3 linked regions of the Homo sapiens genome follow. The protein of the gene in region 1 interacts with the protein of each later gene in a biochemical or structural test. Each region holds a gene or a part of one and is shown in the gene's direction. Other genes may lie near its edges. The genes, in order: COL4A1, NID1 and COCH.

Region 1 (10,036 bases):
AAAGGGGCTCAAGGACTCCCTGGCATAACGGGACAGTCGGGGCTCCCTGGCCTTCCTGGACAGCAGGGGGCTCCTGGGATTCCTGGGTTTCCAGGTAAGTGATTTTTGAACTTCTGCCTGGATCCATCATGAAGACATGGGCCTCACCTTATTCTTTTTATGACTCAGCATTTACTGTCAGCATTCAGAGCAAGAAAATGTTCACAGTCCTTTCCTTTGGCCACAGGTTCCAAGGGAGAAATGGGCGTCATGGGGACCCCCGGGCAGCCGGGCTCACCAGGACCAGTGGGTGCTCCTGGATTACCGGGTGAAAAAGGTAGGGGAGCTGATAACCCTAGAAGCTCATTTTGTGTCTATTTCTCGATGCCACTTGGGAAATTCTCAAGTTGTCATAGATCATATTTCCCTTTAAGACGCCTACAAAAGAAGTTAGGAACATCAAGCAGAAGGCTGGGAGACCCCCTTCTTCCAGTAGGATTCCTGGTGCTCAATGCACATGGGGTTGAAACTGTGCTTGGCCAAGCAAATCAGAAAGAAGCTGGGCTTTCCTTCTTGGCACAGATGAGATTCTTCTTGTGAGAAATGGTGGAATCTTCAGCCATGCCAAGATACAGGGACCGAGTCCTTAGGCTCAGATTAACAACCTGCGCAAGTTTACAAGGCTTCGTCTTTATTTCTTATCGTTATTTGAAGTTGTTCCAAAATAATGTCTTTTACAAAGAAATACTGTAAATATGACACATGAAAAGGTCATTTGTTTTGTAGAATGATAAAATTCCTGTTCTATTATTTTGTATAGAACTGAGGGGCACTATGAATAAGAGTGATAAAGATATGTAGGAAGGAGAGAAATGTAAGTTATCTAAACCTGAAAGCCAAGTCACATGCAGTAGAGTTATTAGCGAATAATGAATTGTAGAAAATGGCTTTTTACTGCTCATTTACCTGGGGTTGGATTCTTCTGTGTCTCAGACACTGGCCATTAATGCCATTTTGGACAAGTTATGAGTGCTTTGTAGCCTTTTTGCCAGCTGCTGTCCCTGTCAACAAGAACGTGAGCCTTTTGAGCACCTCTGTGACACTGGCCCAGGCTCACCAGTGCCTTCTCTTTCCTCTGCAGGGGACCATGGCTTTCCGGGCTCCTCAGGACCCAGGGGAGACCCTGGCTTGAAAGGTGATAAGGGGGATGTCGGTCTCCCTGGCAAGCCTGGCTCCATGGATAAGGTGGACATGGGCAGCATGAAGGGCCAGAAAGGAGACCAAGGAGAGAAAGGCAAGTCCAGGAGGCTTCTCATGGCCAAGCTCGGAACCACAATGTGCCTTTCCTGGGTTATCGGGTCCTCCATAAATAATAACCAAACCAACCTGCGTTTCTGCAGCAACTTGCTTGCAAGCAAATGCGGGTCATTGCTATTTTCTTCTCTGATGTGTAGGACAAATTGGACCAATTGGTGAGAAGGGATCCCGAGGAGACCCTGGGACCCCAGGAGTGCCTGGAAAGGACGGGCAGGCAGGACAGCCTGGGCAGCCAGGTACAGTGTGGAGCTCCGGTCCCCAGTGTGGCAAGGGCTCAGGATGAGGCCTGTGTTCCCCAGCTCTTTCTGTAGATGTCAACCTGTCAGACTGCTTTCTTTATGGTTCTAGGACCTAAAGGTGATCCAGGTATAAGTGGAACCCCAGGTGCTCCAGGACTTCCGGGACCAAAAGGATCTGTTGGTGGAATGGGCTTGCCAGGTAAACTGGATTTAGAAGAGGATTCTTTAGCATGTGTGCGTGTGATACTGGTAGGGCATGTCTGCAGAATGAGATCCTCTTCAGCTGAGACGGACAGAATCCAGGCACGTGTGTCTTTCACATGAATTCACATCCCCAGCTCTGAATGGTCTCCTGCTCAGGGATGGATGACATTTGGCTGACAGAATGGCCATTGCTAAGAAAACTCACCATCTAATGGAATAAAACATGGGCTGTATACAGTCAACTTTTGATGATCTCCAAGTGACCATCCCCTTGTCTAGGATCTCCCTAAGAGACGACGGCTTCTCCATCCAGGCTTGTCAGCCTGAGTAGCTTATGGCTCCAGAGCCCTTTGTGTTAGTTCAGAAGAATTCTCCGGACTCCTCTGCTCCAATCCCGGACTAGCCTTAATGCTTTGCCATCAGTGTCTATTGTAGTGAGAGCAGCCGGGAAGAGGAGGAGAGTGCGGGAAGGGCTGGGTGGTGATGGTCCTCAGAGCTCACTCAGAAAGGGGGAGAGTTCAGATGGGAAGCCCATCTTTCCATCTCCTCTTGAGTCTTGACCAGGTGCTGTTATCACTTTAATTAAAATATAAGCATCTAGATTGCTGGTCATGCCTATGTGTGAATAAGCCTGGCTACCAGCATGCATCACAGAACCGAGTGTGCACAGACTCCGGCCTGCCCGCCTCATAGTCCCTGTGACGTCTGGCTGATGAGAGCTGGCTGTATAATAAAGAACATAAGATCCATTTTTATTCTGTTGAGAAAGTAAATATTCTAGGTAGTTAATGTATTTCTTCCCTGTCTTATAACATGATGGTCTTAAAGGACGGGAGAGACATTTCCTAGCGTGGCTCTGATGTGATCTGGGTGACTGACGTGTTCTGGGTCATGAGCCGATTGATACATGAGGGATGTGCATTCTTGTATCTCAATCTTGGCTGGTTGTGGGGGATTCACGTTCTTGTATCTCATTCTTGGCTGGCTGTGGAGGCACTTTTTCATTTGTAATACCAGCACTAGCTAAGCCCAAATCAAGTTTCAATTGTTTGTGTTTATAGGAACACCTGGAGAGAAAGGTGTGCCTGGCATCCCTGGCCCACAAGGTTCACCTGGCTTACCTGGAGACAAAGGTGCAAAAGGAGAGAAAGGGCAGGCAGGCCCACCTGGCATAGGCATCCCAGGGCTGCGAGGTGAAAAGGTAACCAGCGCTCTGCGTGGAAAGGTCCCCTTCTCCCAGCTCAGTGGAGATGCTGCCTGAGAAATGCTCAGCAAATATCTCAGCACACTCAATGAGCCATAACACACAGGGAGTCCCATAAGGCAGCACAAGTCGCCTCTCCTTCCCCTTGTATTCACTACCTCTCCCCCAAGGAAGAATCTAGAGACTGGTGAGAGGCTAAGGTGGGAGACAGCTGTCAGTGGGATAAAACAGAGAGGATGGAGGACGAAGAGGAATGGCAGGTAGAAACCAGATGGTTGGCTCTACTGCTCTTAAGTTTTCCTCTCCATTCAGAAGTGGACTTTGATTCTTTGATGAGAAATCTGGAAATGGAGTTTTGCAATGCAATATTCATTGCACCAAAATGTATACCATTATCTATAACATGCCTACAGATGCATGCCCATGGACAAATGTAAAGTTAATATGCCTGACTTTTACTTGCAGGGAGATCAAGGGATAGCGGGTTTCCCAGGAAGCCCTGGAGAGAAGGGAGAAAAAGGAAGCATTGGGATCCCAGGAATGCCAGGGTCCCCAGGCCTTAAAGGGTCTCCCGGGAGTGTTGGCTATCCAGGTAGGTGAGGGGGGCTTCTCTTGGACTTGGGGAATCTAAGAAATCAAAGAAAAGCCCAAACTTATGGATGTTCTGGTGTTTTGTTTTTTTCTTTAGGAAGTCCTGGGCTACCTGGAGAAAAAGGTGACAAAGGCCTCCCAGGATTGGATGGCATCCCTGGTGTCAAAGGAGAAGCAGGTAGAGGGCCCTCTTTGGGACACAGCCCGGGCACATAGAGAACAGTGGCCAGGGGATGGGAGGCCCCAAGGAGTTCCCATCACAGACGGGGAGCAGGGAGGCCAGCTGTCCTGTCTCCCATCTTCAGATGGGCAAACTGAGTCTAGTGCAGGTTACAGGATCTTTCTGAGGTCTTGTCACTAGCAGGATCTAGGACCTAAATCTCCAAACTGTTTTTGTGGCCATCATGGAGTTTTTGTCACCAGCTTTTGAGGGTCAGGGTTTGGTGGTGTTGCTGAAAGCACGCAGGGTCCTTTCTGAAGGGAAGTCAGAACTGACCTCAGGAAAACCAGGTGTGCTTGGGAGGGAACAGCTCCCTTAAAGGATGTCAGCAAAGGGCCATTTTGTATGGCAGCTAGGGTGCTGTGAGAGGTTATGCGGGTGTCTGATGTGACTTTTCTCTTTGAGGTCTTCCTGGGACTCCTGGCCCCACAGGCCCAGCTGGCCAGAAAGGGGAGCCAGGCAGTGATGGAATCCCGGGGTCAGCAGGAGAGAAGGGTGAACCAGGTATGGCCCAACGCCCCATTCCCTATCAGAATCAGCAGTGTCCACTCCCAGAGACCTGCAGACTGCCTGTGTTCAGTGAATAAAGCTGGGCACAGAATGGCCCCTAGACTGCACATCCCTGCAACTACTTAAACACTGATGTGGATGTGTGGAGTAGAGTGGGATGAGTGGAGGGGAAGAAGGGAAGGGGTATTTATTATCCCATAAATACTGAGGGCATCTTCCCCTGAAATAACCTGAGCTCTCAGTGGTGAGTCAGAGACACATAAAATACCTGCTGTTAGAACACTTTCCATTTCCCTTGTGGTTGCTATGACAAAACAAAGCAAAGCAAAACAAAACTCTTTTCTTTGCCCAGCATTTCCCCATTTGAGGGGAAATGGTTGGAAATATTGGTTGGCCCCTGAGTCTGCTCCTGTCACTGGTGGGCTTTAACTTGGCCATAACTTGGACAAAAGTGCAGGTGTGATGATGACAATCACATACACAGTAATATTTGTATTTAATGCAAGAGAGAGATAAACACACCATTTGAAGCAGGTTACCCCTGACTTGGGGGGACACTGGGAGGACCACCAAGAGCATCCACAGCTATTGGTGCTGGCTTTCTTTTCATTTTTTTCATTCCATAACTTTATATTCTATACATTTGTTTTTCTATACAAACAATTCATAAAAATACCCCTGCACTCCTTTCCCCCGATTTGAATCTTCCCTCAAGCCCTTTGCTGACGTTTGTCATCTCCCCAGCATCTGCTGCCCCAAATCTCTTTGGCTTTCCCCACCTCCCTGAGAATAGCAATTAGTGGATGGTTGTCTGAGAATCCCATTTGCTTATCTCCAGACGGCAGCAGGAAACAAATACTCATTTGCACAGATCATTTGTGCTAAATGCCGTGGTGGTTCTGAGCTGAAAGGTACTTAGGAAAAAGTACTAAATTAGGAACATTCAGTCAAGGGTATCTTATAACTGTAGGAATATCATTTTATTACAAGGGTGCAATTAACTAATATCTATGTACTCCACAATATACGTAGTATTATTGCAGAGTTGATAGTGCTTTGTGTTGTACCTGCAGATGGATTGTTTAAGTAAAGAGAAACGTGGCATTTTACCCTCATCTTATAGGTCTACCAGGAAGAGGATTCCCAGGGTTTCCAGGGGCCAAAGGAGACAAAGGTAATCTTTGCTCACTGTGCTCTTCCTTTTCAACCAACCGCTGCTGCCTGATTAGCAGAACAAGGGGCAGTGTCTTCAGGATGAAGCCCCATGCCTGTTGGCCAGGCAGCAACGGGATGGAGGATGGGTGCTGAGCCCAGAGGGCAATGCCTGCAAGACACATGTGGTTCCCTTCTAATTAATGGATCAAAATGGCGTGCAGTACACTCATGATCAGAATTATCTTTTACTTGGACTAATTTTGTAAAAATCCAGCAGAGAGGCGAGACCCCTGTCATTTTTATGCCTAGAAGGTCATCAGAATATTGAAATTCTGACTTTCTAGAACTGGTTATACTTATGTGAATGCAGGACAGTATGTAGCACACACCACGAGACAAAAACATGCCCTGCGCAGCCACGATGTGCTCAGTACTAAGTGCAGCTGAGAGTTGGCCAGGAGCTTGGGAAGGCAGTCTCTTCTCTCAGAGAGCTGAGCATTTCATGGGAAAGCAAAGGGGACACAGAAAATACAAGGCATGTGAGCTGCACGACACTGAAGAGAAGCCACAGGTGGCCGCAGCCAGGAGCTCACACACAGCATCCATGGGCATGCTTATGGCCCGTGGCTGGGCTGGCTGAGTGATCCCACTCAGTGGGAGGATTCAGAAAGCCCTGGAAGGCCTTGGACTTCAGCTGAGAAGGAGCAGGGGCACGGAGGTGTTGTTTCTCCCACCCCCTGGTTCTCCCCGAGACCAGCCCAGAGTGTTTCCTTGGCAGGCATGTAGTCTGACACTGGGAACCCCTGGGTTGAGAAGGATGGCCTGGTGCCGGGTGGGCTGCCTTGGGAATGGACACTTCCCTCTCCCTTAACTCACAGAATCCCTCAAACACAGAGCCCCTTGCAAATGCACCTGCTCAAGGGGTCGCTGTGGGCTGTTCCTGCCCTGCCTTTCCTACCTTGCCATGTGATCCCGCACACTCCTTTGGACATGCTGCACTGCCCTTGCACAAACTCTACGCAGCACCTTGCGTTTTCCACTCATTGCTGTGTGAAATAGCAGGGAGAATCCCCAGGAGAAGAGAATCCCAAATGACCACTTTAGGTCTTGACCCTATTTCATTCCCTTTTCCTTTGTTTTGGAAATAACCTTAGAATTTTGGCATTTTTATTGGTAAGATTTGGATACTATGTTTAAAACTAAACATAGAATTTCTTTTTCCTACAAGCTGTTACTTTTTAATTTTTTAAACCTGCTCTATTGAAGTTTCACTGACAGGTCATAAACTACAAATATTTAAAGTGGACAATTTGATAAGGCTGACATAGGTCTACACCATGAAAACATCCCCACATTCTAGATAGCAGGCAAAGCCTTCCCCCAAAAGTCTCCTCCGTGGCTTCATAATCCCCCCCTCCTGCCCTCTCCCCATTCCCCAAGCAACCGTCCATCTGCCTTCTGGTCCTCTAGGTTAGTTTGCATTTTCCAGCAGTTTACAAAAATAAAACCATACACTTCGTAGTCTTTTCAGCCTGACTACTCTCCCACGACATAATTCGTTTGAGATCCAGCCCAGTGGTTGCTCACTTCTTTCTATGGCTGAGTAGTGTCCCACTGCATGGATATAACATGATTGGCTTGTCCAGCCCATTCATGTGCTGATGGAGTGAGGCTTTCGTTTAGCAGTGCAGTTGCTGCAGATGTCTTTAAACACAATTCAGATGCCTTTGCCATAGAACACGTCTCGTGAGAAGTATGAAAACGATAGCTGGGTTCCTAGCATTCTGAGCTCTTTTTCCAGCCAGGCCATGGTCGGATTCTAGTGTGTTATTAAAGAGAAGGAGGGATCGGAGCCCTTGCTGCAGTTTCCTGTGGTGTCCCTGGAAGCTCCCTCTGAGCGGTACCTACAGGATGAGGCACGCCTCATCCCATCTCTGCCGTCCACGCTGGAGATTACTGTTCTGCTGCTGCGTTTCCCATCACCTCAAACTGTTTTTCTTGTTCAGGTTCAAAGGGTGAGGTGGGTTTCCCAGGATTAGCCGGGAGCCCAGGAATTCCTGGATCCAAAGGAGAGCAAGGATTCATGGGTCCTCCGGGGCCCCAGGGACAGCCGGGGTTACCGGGATCCCCAGGCCATGCCACGGAGGGGCCCAAAGGAGACCGCGGACCTCAGGGCCAGCCTGGCCTGCCAGGTAAGGGCATCTCGCCAGGGGCCAGGGCTGAGGACTGGGACAGAATTCACAAAAGGAAATAGCGTAAAAGAAATAGTTAAATTCTCAATTGGGCTTTTTTATTTAGAAGTCTGCAGCATTTATTACAGCTTGAAATTGTGTTTGGCCCCCATCGAGTCAAAGCTTTTCTTGTATCCTTTCTGTCAAGGAATTTAAGTAATTAGGGAGATGCAAGAAAGGAAATGATTGGACAAGCCTGGACTCGTGCCCCGTCGGTGGCGTTGGACTTAAACCAGCGCAGCACTTGGGCCCACTTGTGGGTTCTGGTGAAGACCCCCGTAGTGGTAGCACAGATGCCCGGGCACCACTGACCGCAGGCCATTTTGGACACGGAGACAGTGGCATTTCTATGTCTGTCCTTCCTTCCTTCCTTCCTTCCTTCCTTCCTTCCTTCTTTCCTCCCTTCCTCTCTCCCTCCCTCCTTCCCCTCCCCTCCCCTCCTCCCTCCCCTCCTTCCTCCCTCCTTCCCTCCCTTCCTTCCTTCCCAGACCTTCCTCAATTTCTGTCTCAAGGGTTCACATTGTCGGTCCAGTGTTTTATCAGAGATAGTAGTGTTTCTATTCCCTCCCTCCCTCCCTCCTTCCTTCCTTCCTGGACCTGCCTCGATTTCTGTCTCAAGGGTTGTCACTGTTGGTCCAGTGTTGTATCAGTGAGGGGCCGTGGGTGGCAGTATTGATAGCCCCACAGCCCAGGGACACTTGTGCATATTTAACCCCAAATGTGTGGCTTTCTTCTCTTCCATTAGGACTTCCGGGACCCATGGGGCCTCCAGGGCTTCCTGGGATTGATGGAGTTAAAGGTGACAAAGGAAATCCAGGCTGGCCAGGAGCACCCGGTGTCCCAGGGCCCAAGGGAGACCCTGGATTCCAGGGCATGCCTGTGAGTTATTGATTTGTAGATTTTTATTTTTAAAGGAGTCTTTTCTGGCCAGAAGTATTCATATGTGTCTATGTGTGTATGTATTTTGTGTATGTATATATATGTGTGTGTGTGTGTGTGTGTGTGTGTGTTACACTCCCACATCCCCACTAAATCAGTTCTTTCTTTCTTTCTTGCCAGTAACCCACATCTTTATTGGCATCAGAGTAGGAAACTATTGTAACATTTTTTTACAATCCAGTTTTCCAAGAACCATAAAAGGGAAATGTTATACTGCTGGAAATTATGGCTCAATGCCTAAATTTAAGACCTATTTACAAACTCAATGTAAAAAGCAAGCCAATGTTGTTTTGCAGAGAACAATTCTGTAAAACTAGCCCAGCCATCTCTTAGGACTGGCAGGAGGACAGGGAATTGCAGTTGAACAGTTCAAGTCATAAAAGATAACCAGCAATATTCCATCTTTCTTTACTGACCTGATCCAGATACAGAGTCTAAGTGGTGACTTAGACAAGCCTTCAGAAGAGCACATCTCAGGGTGCAATAAGTGACCAGCAGCCTTGTGTATTTCTGTGTGTGTGTGTGTGACTTTGGCTCTTTGCTGCACCTGAATATATAGCCCTTCTTAGTGGTGGTCATGGATCTTTGGTTTGATTTTTAGCTTAACCATGTCCATGGCTAAAGGATTGTGTTTACGTGGCTCGCTCATTCAAATAGCTGGATTAGCAGAGCTTTATTCTCTGTGTCTGTCTCTCTGTTTCCTCTATCTGTCTCCATCTGTCTGTCTCTCTGTCTCTCTCTAACACACGTTAGGAGAAAGAGAGAGTATATCAGGGGAGATCATGAATAGGAGGGATTTGAGACAGACCTCTGCAGTTATGTTGGAGCAAGCGGGGTTCTTCTGTAAGTCAACACATGTTCTCCCTTAAAGGGAAAGCTTTGAACTGCTCATCAGCAGCAGAGACATATCTTAGAGTCATCAGACTACTTTCTCAAGGATGGATACAGAATAGCTAAGCTTGCTGGGTGCAAAACAATACGTGGTGCTGATTTACTTCTGAATCAGTAAGTTATGAAATGCTTATAAATAATTATGCAGAACTGGCTATAAGGAGTAGCAACAGTCATGTTTACCCATTCCTTGTCCTCAAAGCTGTGTATATCTCCACAGTATAGCAAATGTGTATGTGAATGTATTTTTGGGCCCCTATTGCTATATTGCAGTTTTCCAGTAATGTAAGCCTAGGTAATTTGTCAAATATTTATGTATTCTCATTTTTATTCCTCAGTAACATAGAAATATACCCCATTCCCGGCTGGGCCTGGTAGCTCACGCCTGTAATCCTAGCACTTTGGGAGGCCGAGGTGGGCAGATCACCTGAGGTGGGGAGTTCGAGACCAGCCTGGCCAACATGGCAAAACCCTGTCTCTACTAAAAATGCACAAGTTAGCATGGTGGCTCATGCCTGTAATCCCAGCCACTTGGAAGGCTGAAGCAGGAGAATTG
Region 2 (8,477 bases), on another chromosome or scaffold:
AAACTAAAAGGGGGATCACACACAAGAAGGAGCCCACTATCTTAAATGGCTATGGAGTCAGATCAGAGAGAGGGCTATTGAACTGATTTCTGCCTTTTCCAGGCCATAACTACTGCTCAGTGAACAATGGCGGCTGCACCCACCTATGCTTGGCCACCCCAGGGAGCAGGACCTGCCGTTGCCCTGACAACACCTTGGGAGTTGACTGTATCGAACAGAAATGAAGACAAGAGTGCCTTATTTCCTTTCCAAGTATTTCACAGCAACACTCTACTTGAAGCAACTTGGTCCAGATTGAAAAGTGTCCTCTGGCTGAGTGGCCACTAGGCCCAGACCCAGCCCAGCCTGAGCCCCAACAACTTTTCCCTCACTGTTCCCCAAAACATGCACCCTGGACTTCTCTAATAGAAAAGTCTCCACCCCTACACAAGGACAGAACCCTCCACCCCTACCCCCAACCCTCAGACAGACTTATACACCCCTGAGTGAGGATTACATGCCCATCCCAGTGTCCTAGGACCTTTTCCCAATACTAGCCCCCCAGTGGTGAACAGAACCTCCCAAATTTGAGTTGCACCCTTCCCTGTGGCCTTATGAGCTCAGCCTCGCTTTGAGGTACCCACCGTCCTGTCAGCTCCTTGACCTATGAGCCGGGGCCTGACTAGGAAAAGTTGGGAGTTAAGGAGGAAATTAGCATTCCTTAATGTTTTGTTTTGGTGCTCTGAATTTCTTCTTTATTATAGTCCTATAGTTTTACTCCTCAGTTCCTCACCATCATCATCTTGTCTAAGACCCCCATTATAATATTCATGCGCTGCTTTTTCATCAAAACCTACCCTGTCCTAGAGATCTATGGGCATTTGGTGGATGATAATGAGCAGCCCCTCCCAGATAGAATGTCAATATTTGAGCAGTAGGATATTGGCATTTGTTAGTTAAAGGCTTAAATCAAAAGAATGTCCAATGGTAGGAATTTCAAGGTGTAGGTCAGATATTTGAGAATAGGGGATTTTTTTGATGTGCCTTAAATTATACCAAAGATTACTAATTATTCCTCTTTGCCCAAAATACTTGCATCCAAGGTTCTAGTCTCTGTTGCTGTGCTGGTCTTTAGCCCCACTGCTTGCACTGATGTCCCTCCTTTTCACGGAGACCTATCTGAGGTACAGGATGGGGCTGGCACCAGATGATGTCCCACCACAGTCCCTCACCTCCGGCCTCCACATGACAGAACCAATTTACACTCAACCATGACCTCACCCCTCCTTGGTTTCTCCCTCGATCTGTGGCCCTTTTTGGATGTATTCTTATCTAACAACACAATCCGGAAAGACTGAATTGAATATTTATACTAATGGTTCATATCCTTTATTGCTCAATGATCTAATTAAAGGGATCATTGCCACATTTCATGTTTATATTTCTACAATTTGTTTAGAAAACATCTCCTGACCATATCAGTAGCTCGTGTTATCTTTTTATCAACTGCTTCCCAGAGTCCTAAAACAATAGAAATTTTGGATTGAAAAGTTCAGCATAAGGAGTTTGAGTCAGTAAAGGATGGGATAAAGGAGTCGAGATGATTCAATGAAAAGTATCACAAAAAAGAGATTGATCAACAAGAGAAATAAAAAAGCCCAAGAGGAAGTGGTAGGGGAAGGAATTTAAGAACAGCAATAAGTAAAACTCTTAAGTAACTCCAAAAAGAAAATGGTACATTTTGCCAAAGACCACTTATACTTGAGAACATGGAAGAATTTGCCTGATACTCTCTTTGGGGAAAAGAGTCTCTCCTCTTTTCCTCAAACCCCAGTACACTCAGCCTCTCTGCCCCACCTTCTCCTGACTTTGTCCTCACTTGCTTCTGCAGTACATTGGAACCTGAATTGAAAGAAAGTCTTCCTTGAATAATTGGAGTTTGTCTTGAGAGGCAAATATAGCCCCAAGAATCACAAGATTCGAGGACCATGTAGGTCTTTTACGTAGCCCAAATCCATAAATTAGTCTCACTTTTTGTATTTATCGTTTCATATTAAACCCTCTATATCAAATGTTCATCATGATTTTGTATGATTTTTATAACTATTTTATTCATTTTATTAGATTTATTCTAAAATTTTTTAATGGTAAATTCTTAAACTGTGGAAACCACTGAAGGTGCTTATTAACTGTTCTCCCAGATTTGTACAAGTATTGGATGATTCCTTGAGTTTACAGCTGTACAAATAGTGTGGAAAATAAACTTTTTTTAAAAAAGAAAATCTTCCTCTATCTTTTCTGAATGAAGAGATTTAATGTTGGGAGGCTGATTCATGATAGACAGACAGACAGCCACTTAATAATCTGCAAAACCTGTGGAGCCCAGAAACTCTTATCCCAGTATTATGAGAGCTAGTATGTTTCTCAACCACAAAAAACCTTAGGGGTTGTAATTTACCTAAAAATGAGTGCAGTGTCTCACACCTGTAATCCCAACACTTTAGGAGGCCAAGGTGGGTGGATCACTTGAGGCCAGGAGTTTGAGACCAGTTTGGGCAATACAGGGAGACTCCATCTCTGCAAAACATCAAAAAAAAAAATTAGCTGGGCATGGTGGCACACACCTGTAGTCCCAACTACTCAGGAGGCTGAGGTGGGAGGATTGTTTGAATCCGGGAGGCCAAGGCTGCAGTGAGCTATGATCGTGCCACTGCACTCCAACCTGGGCAACAGAGTGAGACCCTATCTCAAAAACTTAAAAAAAAAATAAAAAATAAATTATATTATAGATTTCAAGCCACCCTTTTGGATATTGTTTTCATTGAGAAAATATATTCTACAAGCAGGCAATAGAAAAAGTTTTCTGATTCAGCTCTGGAGATAAGCTATGTTTTAATTCTCTTTTTACCTCCAGAAGGAAGAAAGATGCTTTCCTGGCACTGGCTATGGAGTGAGACCCCTGGTCTGTTCTAAGCTGCCACCAACAGGCAGTGCCACTCATGCTGGCCCCTGGGTGGGATGAGAATGGCCTCTGAGTTGAACAGAGTGAAGGGGGCTCAGAAGTTGCAGGAATGAGGTGTCCAGAGCTCAGTTGTTGCAGAGAAGGGAATTGGCACCATCAGTGGAGCCAGTATACAGCCTGCCAGTGTGAATTTCTTGAAAGAGACAACTTACATATGTTAGGGCTAAAACTTCCAGTGTTTTATGCTGGCCATAAAATCTGGTTACTCAAAGACGATATCAAGCTCCATGGTGGAGATAAGAAGCTCCTGGAATCTATCCCTCCATTAAAACAATTGAACTGGCAAGAGCTGTCTGATGCAACTATTTTGGAATTCAGGATCTTAGGGAACACTTGCAGCACCCAGGAGAAAGCTTGATGAGGAGGCTGGCAAGTTTTGGTCAATTTCAGCTCTTTACTTAGTGGTGACTACCACCCACCTTGATCAGCCCCAGGGCAGTCAGTTGTGGGGACAGCAGCTCAGGTACTTAGTGTGGCTTGCTGGAGCCAGGTTGGACAATAAAGACCCAGTTTTCCAAAAACCAAGGTTGTGGGTTCTGATTACTGATTGCTGCTTTTGATCCTTGAGGGGCTAGCATATAGGGAAAAATTTTCATGATACTGGGTTTGTCAAACATTTCTTGGACATATCAAAAGCACCAGCAACGAAAGAAAAAAACAGGTAAGCTGGACTTCATCAAAATTAACATTTTTGCATCAAAGGATACTATCAAGAGAGTAAAAAGACAACCCATGGAATGGGAGAAAATATTTGCAAACTCTATATGTGATAAGGAATTAATATTCAGAATATAACTACATTTCAACAACAAAAGCAAACAATTTAAAAATGAGTAAAGGATTTGAATAAACATTTATATGAAGAAGATATACAAATGGCCAATAAGCATATGAAAAGATGCTCAATATCATTAGTCATTAGGTAAATGCAAATAAAAACCACAATTTGACACCAGTTTACAGTATTAAGATGGCTTTTATCAAAACAAAACAAAACAAAACAAGTACTGGAGAGCATCTGGAAACGTTGTCCGTTGCTGATGGGAATGAAAACAGACAGCTTGGTGGTTCCTCAAAAAGTTGAATATAGAATTACTATATGATCCAGCAGTTCCACTCCTAGGACTATACCCAAAATAATAGAAAACAAGGGCTGGAACAGATGCTTCTGTGTTACTGTCCATTGCAATATCATTCACTGTAGCCAAAAGATGGAAACAACCCAAGTGTCCATCAACAGATGAATGGATAAACAAAATACGTTATGTACATAAAATGGAATATCACTGAGCCTAACAAATGAAATCCTGATACATGCTACAACACAGATGAACCGTCAGGACATTATGCTGTGGGAAATAAGCCAGACACAAACTATCAAGCAATATATGCGCTTCCATTTATATGAGGTATCTAGAATGTACCAATTCATGGAGACTGAAAGTAGATCAAAGGTTACCGGGGGCTGTGGGGAGGTGGAATGGAGAGTTATTGCTCGATGGCTACAGAATTCTTACCTGGGAAAATGAAAAGTATTGGAAATAGTGGTGATGGTTGCACAATATTGCGAATGTAATAAATGTCAGTGACTTGTACACTTAAGAATTATTAATGGCTGGGCACGGTGGCTCACGCCTGTAATCCCAGCACTTTGGGAGGCCAAGACGGGCGGATCACAAGGTCAGGAGATCAAGACCATCCTCGCCAACATGGTGAAACCCCGTCTCTACTAAAATGTAAAAAATTAGCCGGGTGCGGTGGTGCGCACCTGTAGTCCCAGCTACTCAGGAGGCTGAGGTAGAGGAATCGCTTGAACCCGGGAGGCGGAGGTTGCAGTGAGCTGAGATCGTGCCATTGCACTCCAGCCTGGCAACAGAGCAAGATTCTGTCTCAAAAAAAAAAATTATTAACATGGCAAATTTCATGATATATACATATTTTACAATTTTTAAAATTAATAATGTAATATACCCAAAACCATTGCAGGTACACTTTGGGTGAATTACATAGCATGTGAATTATATCTCAATAAAGCTGTTTTGGGTGGGCACAGTGGCTCACATCTGTAATCTCAGCACTTTAGGAGGCTGAGGCAGGAGGACAACTTGAGGCCAGTAATTTGAGACCAGCCTGGGCAATATAGTGAGACCCCCATCTCTACAAAATCTTTTAAAAATTAGCCGGGTGTAGTGGCAAGTGCCTGTAGTCCTAGCTACTCAGGAGGCTGAGGCAGGAGGATTGCTTGAGCCCGGGAGTTTGAGGTTACAGTGAGCTATGATCATGCCGCTGCACTCCAGCCTGGGCCACAGAGCAAGACCCTGTCAAATAAATAAATAAGCTGTTTTTTAAAAATCACTGTAATTAAAAACAAAAACTCCTGGATACCTAAGGTTGGCAAAATGCTGATCGTTGTTGTGGCTGGCCGAATTCTAAAGATTTCAAGATTCTAATTTTGTACTGCTCTGAAGGGACTTTGCAGATGGAATTTAGATGACTAAGTAGCTGACGTTAAAACAGGCAAATTATCCTGGGTTATCCAGGCAGGCCCTTAAAAACAGAGGAGGGAGGCAGAAGAGTCAGAGAGATAAGGCAGAAACAGAAAGCGGGAGAGGAGAGGGTGAAGGGGGAGAGGGACTATTTACACTTCCCTTTAGGTTACAGGCACAGAGAAACCTTTAGGCTGAACTTAAAATATGTGAGTAGCTTTAAGCTAAACTTGATTTAACAGGGAAAAACAGGACTTTGCAAAAATTCTTTTAGGGAGTGTACTATCGAGCACATTTGAAGACCACAGGTCTCGAAAGCGGGGAAGACGGGACCCAGAGTCCCCCGCAGCAGCGTCACGGCCCAGCTCTGGTTCTCAAGTTGGGCTGCTGTTTTTCCCCTTTTTCTCATCCGCCAGGATGCCAGGCGCTGCTGAAAGCTGCAGCCGAAAGGATTTAGAATTCCTTACAACGGAGAAAGGGTCTTTGCTCAGACAACATGGACTTAAGAGACGGAAGGGCCAAAAAGGCTTGAAAACAGGCTCGAAGAGCGGCTTCCTGGTAGCTAGAAGCTTAAGTGGGGACAGATGAGCTTAACTGGCAAGCCTGCGTGTGTGCTCTCCAGCCCCCGTGATTCAGTTTAAATCTGGGCGGGTCTCCTCAAAGACAGTTCCAGAAGGGGCCACGTGAGGGCAGTAAGAGCCTCTCAATGCCTGTTTTTGGGGGAAGAGAGAAGTGAGGGCGGAGCGCGGGGAGCGTCCCAGGCCTGGCTACCCGGATAACTTCCCCAAAAGAAGCTATGCTCGGGCCTTCCCATCGTCCCACTCAAGAGCTTTCTTCATATTGGTGAGTTGCCCAACTGCTAGCAAAAGAACTTCCCAATTATGGTCAAGCCTCTTCATCTAAATTCAGATTTCCACCAAATAGCCCAGCCCTTTTCCTCCCCAAGTCATCTCCTTACTCAAACATTTGCAGACATTCGTCACACGAGATCCCCAGCCGTGGGCTCAGCATCTTACACCGAGGTACGAAAACACAGAAGTATTCCTGAGTGTATTCTGTGTATGCAAAAGTGCATACGTCTCCTTATGGACCAGGTTCTGAGTGAATCTAAGTGGAAAACACGGAATAGCAGGCTAATTCCAGAAAATGCAGGGCTTTTGCAAATAAGTGGGCGTCTAGTCACTAAGCAGGTAGTAATAACAGGTGATGCTAAATGATTGCTTCGAACCACTTTGTTAAGGGGATCAGAGAAGGGAGAAGGCTCAGGAGAGAGAGTGCAGCAAGAAGCTTTTATTAGCTGGATGGAAATGGGAAAACTAACTCAGGATAACCTTATGTAGTAGAATTTATTGTGCCCATTGAGTAAGTCAGGAAACTGAGGGTTAAGGAGGTGAAGTAACTTGGCAAAGGTCACGCCGTCAGAGCAGAGTCCAGTTCCAGATTTGGTTTACTCTAAATACCCTTCCTCACCCCCCTTTTTAAGAAATACCTTAAATGAAAATTTATTTTTACTTTATCTTACATTATTATTTATTTGTATTCAGCACATTTTCATTTAGAAAGTTGGAAAATAAAGGCACAAGAAAAACAAATAACAGTAATTTCATTACTCAATAATGGCCTCATCACTACAATCTTGTCCAGAAATGTTGTAAACACACACACACAATACTTTTACATATATTTTTGTAAGATATATATATAACAAAAAATGTGATCCTGTGATACTTTTCCGTATTTTTGTTTTCCATTTAAATAAATGTGCATATGAACATTACTTTGATCAACTACATAATAGTATCATACTCTATTATATGGACAATAAACTCTCACCAGTTCATTTATTGATGAACTTTTAGGGTGTTTCTATGTGTTTTTTGATGTGATAAATAACAATAAACCAATAAACACCCACATACTAATATCAGTGTCCTTTTTTTTTTTTTTTTTTTTTTTTTGAGAGTCACGCTCTGTTGCCCAGGCTGGAGTGCAGTGGTGCAATCTCAGCTCACTGCAACCTCCGCCTCCCGGGTTCAACAATTCTCCTGCCTCAGCCTCCCGAGCAGCTGCGACCACAGGCATGTGCCACCATGCCCAGCTAATTTTTTATATTTGTAGTAGGGATGTGGTTTCACCATGTTATCCAGGATGGTCTCAATCTCCTGACCTCATGATTCACCCGCCTCGGCCTCCCAAAGTGCTGGGATTACAGGCATGAGCCACCACGCCCGACCCTCAGTGTCCTTATTAATATCTTTAGGATAAATTTCAACTCAGGATTATTTAAAAATTTAAGACTTTCAATAGATACTCCCCAACTGCCTTACAGAAAGTTTGTACCACTTTATACTTCCACCAGCGGGAGTGTTGGAGAGGGCCCGTTTACCTATGTTTTTGCCTTTGCATAGTTTATTTTTTCATTTTTGCCAATTACATAGGTGGTGTTTGTTTATTAAAATTTACATTATTGGCTGGTTGCAGTGACTCACGCCTGTAATCCCAGCACTTTGGGAGGCCAACATGGGAGGACTGCTTGAAGCTAGGAGTTTGAGGCCCATCCTGGGCAACATACTGAGGCTCAGTCTCTAAAAAGAAAAAAAATTACACTCTTTAAGTTGCGGTAAACTTTTGAAATGCACACTAGCCACTTAAAGTTCTTTTGTCAATTGTCCTTCTAGTCCTCAGTTCTTTTTTCTAATTGGGAGAATCTCACTGATTTATAAGTGTCCTTTACATTTTAAAGCTAATTAACCTTTTGTTGTCTATTTTGCAAATAATATTCCCCAAGGGTTTGTTGTTGTTGTTGTTGTTTGTTTGTTTGTTTGTTTTTTTGAGACAGGGTTTTGCTCTGTTGCCCAGGCTGGAGTGCAATGGCGTGATCTTGGCTCACTGCAATCTTGGCTCACTGCAACCTCTGTCTCCTGGGTTCAAGCTATTCTCCTGCCTCAGCCTCTCCAGCAGCTGGGATTACAGGCATGTGCCACCACACC
Region 3 (10,636 bases), on another chromosome or scaffold:
GGGCAACAGAGCAAGACTCTGTTTCAAAAAATAAAAATAAAAATAAATAAATAAATAAATATTTATTTATTAATTGCTTTTAGAAATAGAATATGCTCATTATAGAAAGCTTGAAAATACATAGAGCACAAAAAAAGAAATGCTCTAAATCATATGCCCTAGAGATAATCACTATAAAATGGTTTTTTTTTTTTTTTTTTTTTTTTTTTGAGACGGAGTTTTGCTCTGTCACCGAGGCTGGAATGCAATGGCACGATCTTTGTTCACTACAACCTCTGCCTCCTGGATTTAAGTGATTCTCCTGCCTCAGCCTCCTGAGTAGCTGGGATCACAGGTGTGCACTACTACGCCTGGCTAATTTTTGTATTTTTAGTAGAGACAAGGTTTCACCATGTTGGCCAGCCTGGTCTCGAGCTCCTGACCTCAGGTGATCCACCTGCCTCGGACTCCCAAAGTGCTAGGATTACAGGTGTGAGCTACCACGCCTGGCCCCTTCAGTATTTTAAGGAAATATTTGACTGTATTATTTTTTAAAAACTCAGACTATTAAAAATGCCCTGCATCCTGTTTTTTTCATCCTTTAGTATTTTTAGCATTTTCTCATATCACAAATATTCATCAAAAATATTTCATAATATTCCGCTGCATGATTAGTCATTCTTATTATTTCTTCACTACATTACACACTACACTGTGATGAACATCCTTATATCATCTTTGTGCCCATCTCTGATTATTTCATCAGGTTAGATTTCTAAAAGTGAGGTTCTGACTTAAAGCCTCTGATATAAATAGTGAAATTGAGCCATGCACAGTGGCTCATGCCTGTAGTGCCAGCTGCTCAGGAGGCTGAGGTGTGAGGATCTCTCAAGCCCAGGAGTTCAAAGCTGCAGTGAGCTATGATGGCACCACTCTACTCCAGCCTGGACAACAGAGAAAGACCCCATCTCTAAAAAAACAAATAAATAGCGAAATTGCTTCCTAGAAAGGTGAAGTAGTTTAAACTACTATCAGCAGTGTGTAAGGTTGTATAAACAGTGCTATTACAAATATTAATTTCCATTTCATTTCTGTTATTTTTTACAAGTGGCTCTGCTCTTAGATTAGATAGAATTTTTTTGGCATGAGAAGAAAATTTAACTGTTTTAACATAATTTAACCATTTGTCTCTCACCCTTAAAAAAAATGTGTTCCTTGTTTCATTGACTTATGGTATCACATTTATACCTGAGTTTGAGCAAGTCTATTTCTTTGATTCATATGCTAATCCTTACATATTTTTTTCTACGCTGCTTTGATTATCACAGTTTTATTGCACATTTTAACATCCCATGAGGCAAATTCCCCTGCAGTACTTTTTGTCTTGTACTTTTTTCTGACTACTTTGACCCAATTCTTTTTGAAGATGAATTCTTCATTACCTTGTAGACTCATACAAAGTTTTGTAGTTTTTCTGTTTTAGAAAGACCATTAGAATAGGTAAACCATGTCAAGTTTATATGTATGTAAGTCAAAGAACAGAATATATCAAGGATACAAAAATGAGACTAATTTCATAAGTCATAATCTGGATAGTTGAAAAGTGACCACAAGTGAAAAGGTTTTCAACCCATGAAATCTGATTTTATGACCCAATATTCCATCAGGTATGTATGCAGAAATACAGTCAGTGTTCTACTTCTCCCTCAAAAAATCTTGAATAAAATGGCTACTGATAATGCTAAGATCTTAAATTTTGCACTAGGAAATACTGACTCATCTAGAAACTAAACACAACAGATTGTGCTGTGGTTGTTTATACTCAAAACGGTCTCTGCTGAACACAGAGTAGTTATATAAAAGTGAGCTGAAATTCCTTTAATATTAAATATAGGAAATGAGATCTCAAAACTCTTACAATACACATAATTTTAAGGTGCACAAATGTCATTGTCATTATAAGAAAAACTCAATATTGTAACTTTATAATTCATTTCACCTTTGTCCCTTTAAAAAAATGTTGACGGTCACATCAATGAAATTGTTTCTCCTGAACAGAGAGCTCTGAGTTAATAGATCCACACTACTTAGAGCCTCTGGGGTCCCACACTGGAACAGACCCTAGTCTCATACCCAGCCACTTCCTCATTTAGTTTAGCTACCTGGTGCCCAACTCTGCGGACTTCTGTTAAACCCGAGGCTCTGAGCCAAGCCCGATTTCAAGTTCTCCGTATAGTTTAGGCATGGACTTTGCAGCCAGACAACTTGAACTTAAAATGCAGCTGTGTTTCATCAGGCAAACTCCCTAAATGCTCTGAGACTCAGTTTCTTCATTTACATAATTGGGATAATTCCAACCTTATAGAGCTATGATGAAATGAGGTTTTACATGTGTTATGCTTTTGGCTTATTACCCAGAATATAATAAATCCTCAATATGGCAATTATTTGTTACACCTCTGAAATATCTCCAATAATTCAAGTAAGGATGCAATGCCTCAGTTGACTATGTACTATGGAATTAAGAAAGAAACTTGTGTGTTGTCTGGTTTTAAAACTGTTTTTTAAGGCATGTAATGTTGCTTATTTTACCTTTTTAATTCTCCCTGAATAACATTTTCTTTCTTCCACTCAGTGAACATCCCAAAATAGAATTTTACTTGAAAAACTTTACATCAGCCAAAGATGTTTTGTTTGCCATAAAGGAAGTAGGTTTCAGAGGGGGTAATTCCAATACAGGTAAGTAGACTTTGATACCTGGGATGTAACATAGGAGAGGGTTATCAGTGATCAGACATGTAAAACAGTATTATGCTATTTTATATGAGCAGATGTGAAATCCTCCTGGAACTGAAATCTTGGCTAGGTCTGCATTTGATCATCTGAGATAAATTTTCAATTTATAATGGAAGTATACCAAAGTGTTGATATTTCTTATTTTAAAAAATATAAAGCATGGTGATTTAGAATTCTCATACATTGGATTGACTAGATATAACATTGGAGAAGTATCTCTTTGTAATGCTAAAAAGAAGTGAAAATCAACAGACTTATCTAATGAATGCAGATGTGGCAGAAAGAATGAGTAGCACTACCGTTGACTCTGAAGAGAGACTTCTTAGAGGTACTAATCAGTCACCAAAGGGCTACATAGAGAGCACATGCATGGAAGTGGGAATCAGTTTTGTGTTTCTAACTGGCGATTGATGTGGGGTAAACAAATGTGAGGCTTCTAGGAGGTGGAGGGGGAACTAATATGGCTTGTGAAGATAAATAGGCCTGGTAGATAATTAAACTTTCCCAGCTGATGCATCTGTTACAGAACTGGGTTCTATATAATTCTTTTTTGTGTGCCCCGCCCCACTGCCAGTTCTATATATAATTCTTAAACTTTGCAGCATCAAATGCTACAGGGAAACAGAAATGTGGTTTGAGCAGTGGTAAAGGCTATTTGTTTGCTTCTTTTTCAAATTTAGGAAAAGCCTTGAAGCATACTGCTCAGAAATTCTTCACGGTAGATGCTGGAGTAAGAAAAGGGATCCCCAAAGTGGTGGTGGTATTTATTGATGGTTGGCCTTCTGATGACATCGAGGAAGCAGGCATTGTGGCCAGAGAGTTTGGTGTCAATGTATTTATAGTTTCTGTGGCCAAGCCTATCCCTGAAGAACTGGGGATGGTTCAGGATGTCACATTTGTTGACAAGGTAAAGTGGTGAGGGTTATCTTCTGTTACAGTGATGGGTATTCCATTTTGGACCTCTAAGTGCAGTGCTGACTGCCTCTTATCTAGATTAACTTGAAACATTCAGGATTTTCCAGTTTTTAAGAAGAAACAACTTTTGATCCTTTTGGATATCTTTTATGTGTCTCCCCCATTAGGCTGTCTGTCGGAATAATGGCTTCTTCTCTTACCACATGCCCAACTGGTTTGGCACCACAAAATACGTAAAGCCTCTGGTACAGAAGCTGTGCACTCATGAACAAATGATGTGCAGCAAGACCTGTTATAACTCAGTGAACATTGCCTTTCTAATTGATGGCTCCAGCAGTGTTGGAGATAGCAATTTCCGCCTCATGCTTGAATTTGTTTCCAACATAGCCAAGACTTTTGAAATCTCGGACATTGGTGCCAAGATAGCTGCTGTACAGTTTACTTATGATCAGCGCACGGAGTTCAGTTTCACTGACTATAGCACCAAAGAGAATGTCCTAGCTGTCATCAGAAACATCCGCTATATGAGTGGTGGAACAGCTACTGGTGATGCCATTTCCTTCACTGTTAGAAATGTGTTTGGCCCTATAAGGGAGAGCCCCAACAAGAACTTCCTAGTAATTGTCACAGATGGGCAGTCCTATGATGATGTCCAAGGCCCTGCAGCTGCTGCACATGATGCAGGTAAGGTCCTTGTTCTTTATAGGAGAAGGGAACAGAAAAAACGGTTCAGTGAATTTAGGAGTAAATAAAAATTTAAGCATTTATTTCATTAAACAAACACCTGTGGCTTTACCCAATATTAACTGTTAAAGCAGCCCTACTCATCTCATTCTACAGATAAGGAAGCAAACTTCCTGGAAATGACATTTCTAGTAAGTGGCAAGGCCAAGATCCAAACCCAGGCATTCTGGCTCCAGAGTGCACATTCCTAACCACTGTATTGTTGGGAGAATTGCCATGAGAACCATGTCACATTAAGGAAATATGCTTATACATATACAATTAAGGTGCTCATATTTAGCTCAAACTTGGACTATATCTCCAAATAGCCAGCTTATAACCTACCATGAATCTGCCATTCAGTAATTTATCCTAACTTTCTTGTGTATGAAACAGGTAATTGCTCTGTCACCAGGCTGGAGTGCAGTGGCATGTAGTGAGCTACAACCTCCAACTATTGGGCTCAAGCAATCCTCCTGTGTCAGCCTTCCAAATAGCTAGGACGACAGGCACATGCCACTGCCCCTGGCTAATTTTTAAATTTTTTTGGGGAGAGACGGGGGTCTCACTTTGTTGCCCAGGCTGATCTCAAACTCCTGGGCTCAAGCAATCCTCACACCTTGGCCTCCCAAAGTGCTGGGATTACAGGCATAAGCCACCACACCCAACCCTAACTTTTATTTTAGTCAAGTTTTGTCTGGCATGAGTTTCCTAAGATAAGGTCTCCCATAGACTTTACCTATCCCATCAAAATTTCCTTGGCCAGGTGCAGTGGCTCACATCTGTAATTCAGCACTTTGGGAGGCTGAGGTGGGCGGGATCACCTGAGGTCAGGAGTTCAAGACCAGCCGGGCCAACATGGTAAAACCCAGTCTCTATTAAAAATACAAAAATTAGCTGGGTGTGGTAACATACACCTGTAATCCCAGCTACTCAGGAGGCTGAGGCACGAGAATCACTTGAACCCAGGAGGCAGAGGTTGCAATGAACTGAGATCGTGCCATTGTACTCCAGCCTGGGCGACAGAGTGAGACTCTGTCTCAAAAAGAAAAAAAAAAAAAAAAAAAAACTTTTTCCCCCCCGCTTAAGATAATAAAAACACACTCTGGTGTTATAAAAGGGTATAAGAAGGGTTTCTTTCTTCCTCACCCCAGCCTTAATATTACTTTTGGCACAGGCCTCGTTCCTGAAGACATTAACGTAATGTGTTAGAGATCAAATAGGCCAACAAAAAGCTAAGATTCCCTTTCTGAGGATATAACTGAGTGACAGGAGGGAAGAATCAATGGACTTGTTTTTTTTAACACTCTTCTGTACCTCATTTTCCCTACTTAATTCCTAATGACATAACCTTTTTCCTTTCTACACATTAGTACCTCTGCCAATGTACTCACATATTTTTACAGATACTGATGAAAGATTATTCTTAAAACAGAGAACACATGCAATTTAAGTTCCACATCTAGCTTGTAAAAAGTATTTTTTATACATCAGCAACTAGCCTGTGAAGTAAAGACCTGTTTACTATCATATTCCTTAATACTTAGCTTACTGAACTTATAGTTAACAGGATTGTATTCAGGCTATAAAGTGATTAGGTTGATTAAAGTTCAGGAGGCTGGACTACACCAATATTGATTCGTGAAAATTATCCCTTAGTGATATTGAAAGTTGCAAAAGCCAGAAAATAGGGTAGGATTTTAGGGGTAGATCACAACAGTTTTTATTTATTTTCAGGGTCTTGCTCTGTCACCCAGGCTGGAGTACAGTGGTGTGATTATTTTTTTTTTTAACTGTAATTATATGCTGGGCTTGAGCTAAACAATCTGAACTAGAATGTAGAACTGAAAAGAAGTGAGGAAAACTGAGGGGGAGGAAAAAAATATTTTGACTTTTTTTTTTTTTAACCAGGGAGTGAGAGTCAGGAAAAGGAGACTGGAACAATTGGACATTGTTCCAAGTAGCTTTTACATCATCTAAACCTGCTGCATATCTTAGGTATTTACCACTCTGAGCACTGTATACCACTAGAAGGGGAATGAAACCTTAGATCTGTAGAGGAAAACTATTACAGAAACTCCAAAAGTTATAGAAAATTGCACCCAGCATTAGATAGATGGTACTCTACACTAAGAATCTGCTAAATGAGGCCAGGTGTGGTGGCTTATGCCTGTAATCCCAGCACTTTGGGAGGCCGAGGCAGATGGATCGCTTGAGCCCTGGAGTTCGAGATGAGACCAGCCTGAACAACATGGTGAAACCCCATCTCTACAAAGAAATTTAAAAATTAGCTGGGCTTAGTGGCATGCGCTTGTAGTCCCAGCTATTTGAGGATGGGGGTGCTGAGGAGGATAGTTTGAGCCCAGGAAGTTGAGGCTGCAGTGAGCCTTGATTGTACCACTGCACTCCAGCATGGGCAAAAGAGCCAGACCCTGTCTGAGAAAAAAAAAAAAAAAAGATTAAATGAAAACTTCTACAATTGGGATTGGGGTGAATCCAACTAATGTATTATTACCCTAAATGTACAGTTGTACTAAAAGCCTTCTAGTAACTAAAGTGAATGGAAATAGAATACCTCAATGAAACTGGAAGAAATTACTCCAGTTTCATAAGATCCCTCTTGGGCAGTACTTTTTAGTCACTAGTTTTGCTTTGGGATTATAGGCTGACATTTTCTGATTATTAGACAGTTTGCCAATATAAAGATTGAAATGGAAGAGGATTTTTCATTATCAGAGGACTAGTCACCATTCCTCAAACAATGCAACCTTTGAACACTTTTGCTATTTACTTATCCCATCTCTTGTGCCATTCTTCCTTGCTTTAATGGATTGTGACTCTGACTCCAGTATACTGTTTGATGCAGGCCAACCTCATACGGAAAATTTTCACCATCCGCATTTACTGTAGGATTTTAAAAAAGATACTGTGGATCAGGTTAAAAGTCTTCTTCTATTCCTAGTTTATAGGTGTGTTCTGTCATTAATGGATATTGAACTTTATCAAATTATTTCTTATCAGTGATGACTTACCTGTTAATGTGGCGAATTACAGATATAGCAGAGTTTCTGGTTTGGACCACTCTTTTGCCACTCTCGTCACAATGACTGTGAAAACTTAATTTGTTCAGGGGATTTAATTGTCCAGAAATTAGTAAGCAGTTTTCGCTGCAACTATGTAACAGTGTATGGAAAACATATAGACATAATTCCATATATTAGCTAGACCTGATTTTCAATTCACTTTAAAATGTTTTCATTGTAGGAATCACTATCTTCTCTGTTGGTGTGGCTTGGGCACCTCTGGATGACCTGAAAGATATGGCTTCTAAACCGAAGGAGTCTCATGCTTTCTTCACAAGAGAGTTCACAGGATTAGAACCAATTGTTTCTGATGTCATCAGAGGCATTTGTAGAGATTTCTTAGAATCCCAGCAATAATGGTAACATTTTGACAACTGAAAGAAAAAGTACAAGGGGATCCAGTGTGTAAATTGTATTCTCATAATACTGAAATGCTTTAGCATACTAGAATCAGATACAAAACTATTAAGTATGTCAACAGCCATTTAGGCAAATAAGCACTCCTTTAAAGCCGCTGCCTTCTGGTTACAATTTACAGTGTACTTTGTTAAAAACACTGCTGAGGCTTCATAATCATGGCTCTTAGAAACTCAGGAAAGAGGAGATAATGTGGATTAAAACCTTAAGAGTTCTAACCATGCCTACTAAATGTACAGATATGCAAATTCCATAGCTCAATAAAAGAATCTGATACTTAGACCAAAAGCAACATTCGTTCTCTAACCATTCTGTATTGATTATATAAGCAAAATGAAAAGAGAAACTTAAATGAACACAGCTCTTTAACATGGTTCAGGTACACATATTTTGACCCAAGTGGATATTTTCTTAAAACCAATCAATAATAGCTAGCTATTACTGCAGACTATAAAATCTGGATATAGAAAGGAGACCTGTATCAAACTGCTTTTGTAGTGTGTTTTCATAACAACTTATGACTAAAAATATCACACTGAATAAGAGAGCAGGATTGCCAGGTATTTTTCTATTTCTCTCCTTAATTTTATATGTATATAGATATATTTGGCTTATATTCTAAGTCACCTAAGTACTTAAAAGTTAAGTTGGTAAAGTATTTACTGACTGCTTATAAACATTTAAAGACAAAGACATTTCAAATAACTGCAGAAAAAATATTGTAGTTTGAATATTTAAGCAATAAAACTGCTAGTGAGTTATTGTAAGCTGGCTTACTTTTATTACTGCTAGTGTCTCCCCTGAGGATATGGTAAAAATTCATGTGGAAAGACCAATCTGAATTGTTTTTTAAATCATGTAATAATACCAAGAATATTTTTTCTTTGATTCAATTATTTATTGAGGCCAAGCACAGTGGCTCATGCCTGTAATCCCAGCACTTTGGGAGGCTGAAGCAGGAGGACTGCTTGAGGCCAAGAATTCAAGACCAGCCTGGGCAACATAGTGAGAACCCCCTCTACAAAAAAGAAAAAAAAATTAGCCGGGTGGGATGGTGCATGTCTGTAGTCTGAGCTACTTGGGAGGCTGAGGTGGGAGGACTGCTTGAGCCGAGGAGGTCAAGGCTACAGTGAGCCATGATCACACCACTGCACTCCAGCTTGGGTGACAGAGCAAGACCCTATCTCCAAAATAAAAAAAAAAATAAAAAGACACAAGTTTATCGAATACCTACTGTCCTAGGCATTATACACAGCCACTACCTGATTAAACAGTATAAGATATTTTTGAGTACTTGCTTCACCAGAAATGTTTTGTAATTGACATCATTTTTTACTTAAAAATGCTTGTGAAGTTGGTTCCTATGAAAGGAGAACATCAGGACTCCCTTAATGTGACTTAGATGATTCGCTTACCAAGGCCTCTCCCAAAAGACAGAGGTGCTCTATCATCCCACCTTGTCTGTCTTTTCTAAAGATAGGTCCTATCTCCTCCTCTCATCCACCTAAGCCCCCTGAAATGTGTTAACTGGTTAGAATAATATACTCCAGTAAATCTTCTGAGTCTTACAATTTTATACCCTGCATAAGAGGAATAAAAGGACTACATGCAGGGAGAAACAAACTGGAATTGACTTTTTCACTACATAAAAATTTGAATTTGAAAATAGAGTTTGAGAAGACAACCTCCCCTTTTATAAAATGCTTCAAACATGACTGAATCATGTAACAGGGATAATTTTAATTAAACATCATAAAAACTGGGTTTAGCATAGTATGATTTTTCCCCAGTAAGTAGACCAAAAACTCTCAGCTAGGAGTACAACCCCTTGGAAAATTAAGCTCTAATGAAAACCCAGCTACCACTCATTAGCCCTTTTAAGAAAGTGGTTTTTTCTTTAATTTTATAAAGGACCAAGTTTTGAGTCACCTGAAGTAACCAGGGAATAGCAGCAAGACAGCAGAAATCAGAACTGTAGGTTACTATCAATAATTATGTAAGTAAACATAATCAGGATAAAGGTTATTTACAGGAGACAGAGTAAAAAGGAAATACGTATTACAATCCAACTTAAGCAAACATGCTTAGATTTCAAATATGCTGGCCCATTTATAACTTAATGCATTAAATGCAATGTTAGTCTTCAACAGGTAAGTTACCTAGTTTGAAATAATGAGAAAAACAACATGAAATGAGAGGCAGAATATGATTAACTATTGAAGAAATCAACATATTAAGATTTGTATAAAGTACTATTTAATAGTGAAATTAATCTAATTTCCCATGTGTCAAATGGAAGCACACATAATGAAAATAAGACATTATTTTTGCATACCTTTAGTCTCTTCCAAATGTTTAATACTGCAGAGAAAAATACAACCAAAGGAGATAGAACAAAATAAACATATATACTAATTTTTATCCATTTCAGTTTTAATACATTCCAAAATACGTCAATGTTTATGCATTCCAATAATCATCACATTTCAGATCAATGATAATGTACTGGGTTGGAATAGGTGCTAGAAACAATTCTAGCTTTGGAAAAGCTTATTCTTTATTTCAAAAAAGAAGAAACAGAAGAGGAGAAAAGTACCCCCTTTAATTTGTCCTTTAGTTGAATGTTCAGTTCAGAAAAACAAAAAAAATGGTATTTAAAAAAAACTTGCTGGGCACGGTGGCTCACGCCTGTAATCCCAGCCAGCACTTTGGGAGGCCGAGGC

Evidence for each region.
Region 2: the proteins of COL4A1 (region 1) and NID1 form a complex in vitro, tested with the Homo sapiens proteins (one study listed by BioGRID).
Region 3: the proteins of COL4A1 (region 1) and COCH interact in a biophysical measurement, tested with the Homo sapiens proteins (one study listed by IntAct).

Annotation. Positions count from the first base shown.
Region 1 is NC_000013.11:110,168,122-110,178,157, reverse strand, and holds part of COL4A1 (collagen alpha-1(IV) chain isoform 1 preproprotein), read left to right. Parts: coding exon 1-94; intron 95-226; coding exon 227-316; intron 317-1,120; coding exon 1,121-1,273; intron 1,274-1,433; coding exon 1,434-1,532; intron 1,533-1,644; coding exon 1,645-1,734; intron 1,735-2,800; coding exon 2,801-2,940; intron 2,941-3,408; coding exon 3,409-3,535; intron 3,536-3,631; coding exon 3,632-3,712; intron 3,713-4,159; coding exon 4,160-4,258; intron 4,259-5,387; coding exon 5,388-5,438; intron 5,439-7,425; coding exon 7,426-7,611; intron 7,612-8,395; coding exon 8,396-8,529; intron 8,530-10,036. UniProt on the Homo sapiens protein: Type IV collagen is the major structural component of glomerular basement membranes (GBM), forming a 'chicken-wire' meshwork together with laminins, proteoglycans and entactin/nidogen.
Region 2 is NC_000001.11:235,969,614-235,978,090, reverse strand, and holds the end of NID1 (nidogen-1 precursor), read left to right. Parts: intron 1-102; coding exon 103-224; 3' UTR 225-2,261; downstream 2,262-8,477. UniProt on the Homo sapiens protein: Sulfated glycoprotein widely distributed in basement membranes and tightly associated with laminin. Also binds to collagen IV and perlecan. It probably has a role in cell-extracellular matrix interactions.
Region 3 is NC_000014.9:30,881,939-30,892,574, forward strand, and holds the end of COCH (cochlin isoform b precursor), read left to right. Parts: intron 1-2,571; exon of another isoform or gene 2,572-2,614; coding exon 2,615-2,718; exon of another isoform or gene 2,719-2,736; intron 2,737-3,046; coding exon of another isoform or gene 3,047-3,103; intron 3,104-3,455; coding exon 3,456-3,682; exon of another isoform or gene 3,683-3,857; coding exon 3,858-4,374; exon of another isoform or gene 4,375-4,388; intron 4,389-7,204; exon of another isoform or gene 7,205-7,317; intron 7,318-7,445; exon of another isoform or gene 7,446-7,677; coding exon 7,678-7,853; 3' UTR 7,854-8,680; downstream 8,681-10,636. UniProt on the Homo sapiens protein: Plays a role in the control of cell shape and motility in the trabecular meshwork.